2 separate regions of the Homo sapiens genome follow, and region 2 is linked to region 1. The links come from fine-mapping of genetic effects on gene expression. Tissue or cell type: whole blood. Region 1 holds a variant in brackets; the other region holds the start of a gene. All regions are shown on one strand. Distances are from middle to middle.

Region 1 (2,756 bases):
AGGTGGAGCACTGGCAGGGACCCCTACAGAAACTCACCCTGAAATATTCACAGATGAGCTTACATGATGTCTGGGATTTGCTTCAAAATGCAAGAGGGAGGCTGGGCGCAGTGGCTCATGCCTGTTATCCCAGCACTTTGGGAGGCCAAGGCAGGCAGATCACTTGAGGCCAGGAGTTCAAGACCAGCCTGGCCAACATGGGGAAACCCCGTCTCTACTAAAAATACAAAAATTAGCCAGGTGTAATGGCACGTGCTTATAATCCCAGCTACTCAGGAGGCTTAGGCAGGAGAATTGCTTGAACCTGGGAGGTGGAGGTTGCAGTGAGCCAAGATTGTGCCATTGCACTCCAACCTGGGCGACAGAGTGAGACTCTGTCTCAAAAAAAAAAAAAAAAAAAAAAGCAAGAGGGAGAGAAGTGAGTGGGGGCACAGATAAAACAAGATTGGCCCTGATTTGATCATGTTTTAAAGCCTAGAGATGAAGACATAGGCAGTGACAAAACTATTCTGCCCACTTATATAAGCTTGAAGTTTTCCCTAATAAAACATTTGTTAACAAGTACATTCAAGACTTCTGCTAGATGTAATAATGGGTACCAAATTTACCCTCCTGCCTAGAACAACAACACAAAACCAGACCAAATAGATGAAATAACAGTTCTTAAGACACCGGATATCAGGCAATGAAAGACAGTTACCCCTGAGTGAAGGAAAAAAAAGAAAGTTGAGTCCTATGACTGCCTCAGCTTACTGGCTTGAGAGAATGTTCAGACCACAGCATGGGGAGGAATAACTCTAGCAGAGCCGGGCAGATTCCCTGAGTTGAGAAGACAAAGCTGGGAGTTCAGTGTGAGCAAAGCAGCAGTGGTTTGCAGGACAATATATATGGAGAGGTGAGAGTGGTACAGAGAGAGTTCTTGAGATCTGCAAAAGGTCCCCTTTAAATCTTCAGCAGAGAAATTATCAGCCACTGTATGTGAAGAAACTACATGAAGTAGAGGAAAGAGTCAGCAAAAAAAAAAAAAAAAAAAAAAAGAAGAAGAAGAAATAGTATCACAACAGGCTGGGAAAATAGCCTGTTCTCACCAGCTAACCTAGAAAACTTCCTAATTCACAGGGCATTGGTAGAATACTCAAAAAGGTCTTGCCTCAATAGTACAGAGTAATTAGTTTTAGACTAAACAGGGCTT[T/G]AGTCTCTTTTTATTTTTTCACCTCCTCCCAGATGAATTGAGCCTCAACAAACAAATCTTTAAAGCAAAACCCAAATGAACCAAACAGTTTCCACGTAACTTAATTATGCCCTAGAACAAAGCCCAAGAATATTTATAGGAGTACAAAAATCTGTAACACTCAACTAGTAAAATTGTAATGTCTGGCATCAGTTGGAGATTACTAGGCATGCAAAGAATCAGGATACTGTGAGACATAAAGAGGAGAAAAATAATCAGTTGAAACTGGCCAGAACTGACACATATGTTAGAATGAACAAAAAAGTCATTAAAAATTATAACTGTATCCTATATGTTCAAAAATTAAGTAGAAATATTAAAAGAAAAAACATGAAATCCAAATTTCTAAAGATGAAAAATGCAATGCCTGAAATAAATACACTGAATGGGCTTAATATAGCAAATTGGCTACTGCAGAAGATAAGATTAGTGAAACTGAAGACATAAGGATAGAAAATAACCAAAATCTAGGAGAAAAAACTTAAAAAATTAACAGACTATTAGTGAGTATTCAAATGGCCTAATAAGATTAGTAAAACTGAAGACATAAGGATAGAAAATAACCAAAATCTTGGAGAAAAAACTTAAAAAATTAACAGACTATTAGTGAGTATTCAAATGGCCTAATATATGTGTAATTGGCTCCAAAAAACAGTGGAAAAAATAGAAAAATATTTGAAGGAAGAATGGTTGAAATGTTTCTAAACTTAATGAAACAATAAACCCATAGATCCAAGAAGTTCAATTAGAGCTAAACAAAAGAAACATGAAGAAAACTGCTTCAAGGCACATCATAAGCAAATTGCACAAATCAGTGAAAAGAGAAACTCCTAAAAGCAGTTAGAGGGGAAAAAAAGACATGTTTGATACAAGGGAAAGAATAAAGAGAAGGATGACATCAATTTTTTAGAAACAATGTAAGCAAAGAAGACAGTAGGGGGCCAGGCACAATGGCTTATGCCTGTAATCCCAGCACTTTGGAAGGCCAAGGCAGAGGGATCACTTGAGGCCAGGAGTTTGAGACCAGCCTGGTCAACACAGTAAAACTCTGTCTCTACCAAAACTACAAAAATTAGCCAGGTGTGGTGACACATGCCTCTAATCCCAGCTACTTGGGAGGCTGAGGTACAAGAATCACTTGAACTCGGGAGGCAGAGGTTGCAGTGAGCCACGATAGTGCCAGTGCACTCTAGCCTGAGTGATAGAGTTAGACTCTGTTTCAAAAAAAAAAAAAAAACAGCGTGGGGACATCTTTAAAGCATTGACATGGGCAACCCCCTTTGGGTCCCCTCCCATTTTATGGGAGCTCTTTTTTCACTCTATTAAATCTTGCAACTGCACACTCTTCTGGTCCGTGTTTGTTACGGCTCAAGCTGAGCTTTCACTCGGCATCCACCACTGCTATTTGGCGCCATCGCAGACCTGCCACTGACTTCCATCCCTCTGGATCCAGCAGGCTGTCTGCTGCGCTCCTGATCCAGCGAGGTGCCCGTTGCCCCTCCCAATTGGGCTAAAGGCTCACCAT
Region 2 (2,628 bases), 150 kb after region 1:
TTGGAATGTGTTTATTTAGCATTTTTCCCCTTTCTTTTTCTTTTGGGTAAAGCCTGGTAAGTTTATTCCAGCCTCCTCAAGAAGTGCATCAGCGATCAAACTTGAAATCTGTTCATCACTCACTCCCCAAATAAGCTGTTCAAGCAGAATGAAACCGGCCTTCCTTGCCTCCACGTATCAGTCCAGCATCTTGTATTAAAATGCCTGGAACAAGCCGGGCGCGGTGGCTCACGACTGTAATCCCAGAACTTTGGGAGGCCAAGGAGAGCAGATCACGAGGTCAAGAGATCGAGACCATCCTGGCCAACATGGTGAAACCCCGTCTCTACTAAAAATACAAAAATTAGCCGGACGTGGTAGCGCGCGTCTATAGTCTCAGCTACTCGGGAGGCTGAGGCAGGAGAATCGCTTGAACCCGGGAGGCGGAGCCTGCAGTGAGCCGAGATCGCGCCGCGGCACTCCAGCCTGGGCGACAGGGCGAGACTCGGTCTCAAATTAAAAAAAAAAAAGCCTGTAACAACACTTCGCTGAATCCAGATAAACGTAAACGCTGCCGAGCACTGTAAGTTCTGTTCTGCCATAACAGGAGTGAAAAGAACGCTCCCCTTTTCCCACACTCTCTGGGTGCCCCTAAAAAGGGATACTAATAATGCCCGTAAGGGCCCATTGGGAGCAGCCAGGACTGCCGTCCCCCCCTGGCCCGTCGCTCGGCCTCAGTCTATCGCGGCTCCCGGACTGCGGCTCCGACTCCCGCAGCCCGTTCGTTCGCCCCGCGCCGGTCCCTCGGGAGACCGGATCTGTGGCCCCCGGGACTCCGGCCAGAGCGGGGCCCCACCATGCAACTCTAGTGGAAAGTTCTCGTCGCATCCCAGACCAGACCTGCTACCTACGTTCCACTCGTCGGAACTTCAGGACTTGCAGCGCGCCCGGCCGAGCTCGATTTCCTCCTCTGCGGTGAAGAGGGGAGCCTGCAACGCCGACCCCGACCCGGCTTCACCACGATGCGCACCCGCAAGCCAGGCTGGGTGCCCTCGGGACGCTTGAGGCGCCGCGGTCAGTGGACGGTAGGTTCGCCTACGCCCCCTCCTCTGGCACCGCAGTGGGTGGAGGGTGTTTGCAAACTTGTCCAGCAGCCAGGCGCGCCCCTGTGGACGCGCTCCCTCCCCAGAGGCCCCTGCTTCCTCCTGGGAGCCCCCACCCCCTCGCCTGGCCCCCAGCCGGGCGCACTCACCTCTACGCCAGAGCGCGGGGAGGAAGAGGCCCAGCAGCAGCGGCAGCGGGGCCGGCCCCATCCCGGGGCTGCGGATCTGTAATTTCTCTCCGGACGGATGGACAGATGGACGTCCCGAACCTGTCCTGTCGCCGGCCAAGCGCGCCAGCGAAGCTCCCTGTCCGGGCGGCCCGGGCAGTGAGTGCCGAGTGGCGGAGCCAAGCGGCCGGCGGGAGGTGCCGAGGGCTGGAAGGGGCGGGCCGGGGGCCGAGCCGAGGCCGGCCGGGGCTGGAGGAGAGGAGCGGGCAGGGGGGCGAGTCCCGGCGGGCCCAGCAGGTTGGGGTGGGAGGGGGCGGGAGGACGAGGGGGAGGAGGGGCGTAAAGGGGAAAGGGAGGGGGTTGGAGAGAAGGGGCGGGCCGAAGGCCGCCGCTGGGCAGACGGCGGGGAAGGGGGCGGAGAGGAAGGGGAGGGGGCTGAGAGACCCGGAGGGAGCCGGAAAGAGAAGTGAAGGGGAGGGGTGGACTGGAGGTCCACAGCGGAAGGCTCTGGCCGCTGCGCGGGTCCGGGGCCCCACACGTGTGGGTGGGAGATGGGGAAGGACAGAAGGTGGGAGAGGAGTAGAGGATGCCCGAGGCAGCCCCCAGACCCAAGAGGAGGGTCCAGAGGCGCCCCCGCATTCCGGGCTTGGCTGACACAGAAAACCCTGGCCGCGCCGCTCCCAGAGGCCAAGGCCAGGGCGGCAGCGCTCCCTGCCGAGCGCTCCTCCACATCCATTCCGCTCGCCGCCGAGCGCCGCCTGGGTACCCGGCCCGAGGTGCGCGACACGGCCCTGGCGGCGAGGAGCTCACCTCCCCAGGGGGAGGGGTTCCTGGGAAAGGACGCTTTGCCGTGGCTCCGTGACGAGCCAGAGAGAGGTGACACTCAAGGAGGGAGATGAACGTGAATGACAAAGTGCAGAGCAGGAGTGGGGAGAGGGGGAACCACAGCACGTCACTCTCATGGGCCTCCACAAGGTGTGCAGGGTCCAAGAGGCAGTAGCAGAGAGTGAGTCGTAAGAGAAATGTAACTACTTACGCTAATAATGGCAACAGTAACTTAATTTATATACGTAGTTTCTTAAAGGTAACACTTTTAGAATGAATGTATTTTAATGTGGTCCCTTTAACAACATAACATAAGCCAAATCATGTCCCTCTCCTCAAATCTCCCTAAACCTATCAGTGGTTCCTGCTGTCTCTGCGTACGTAAGCCAAGGTTCTGCAGTGGTCTACGAGGTTCTACGTGACCTGGTCCCCTTTCCTCTTTGGCCTCATCTCCTTACGCCTCTTCAATTTACGTTGGTCTCGTCAAGCGGTCCCTTGACCCCTACACTGGCTGGACACTTCCCGTAGATTTGGCTACGGGAAGGAGACAGGCA

Evidence for each region. PIP is the estimated chance that this variant, and not a neighbour inherited with it, causes the effect.
Region 2: it holds the start of MERTK, and the variant in region 1 is fine-mapped to the expression of MERTK in whole blood (INTERVAL, PIP above 0.99).

The regions. Positions count from the first base shown.
Region 1 is chr2:112,044,734-112,047,489 of GRCh38, reverse strand. No RefSeq gene overlaps it. Among named protein-coding and RNA genes, the nearest start is that of TMEM87B, 9.2 kb to the left of the region's middle. The variant T/G (reference allele first, on the strand shown) is at 1,193.
Region 2 is chr2:111,897,400-111,900,027 of GRCh38, reverse strand. MERTK (MER proto-oncogene, tyrosine kinase) reads right to left here and starts at 1,421. Exons shown (of 19, transcript NM_006343.3): 1 at 1,232-1,421. The coding sequence starts at 1,292. RefSeq lists an enhancer at 1,953-2,282.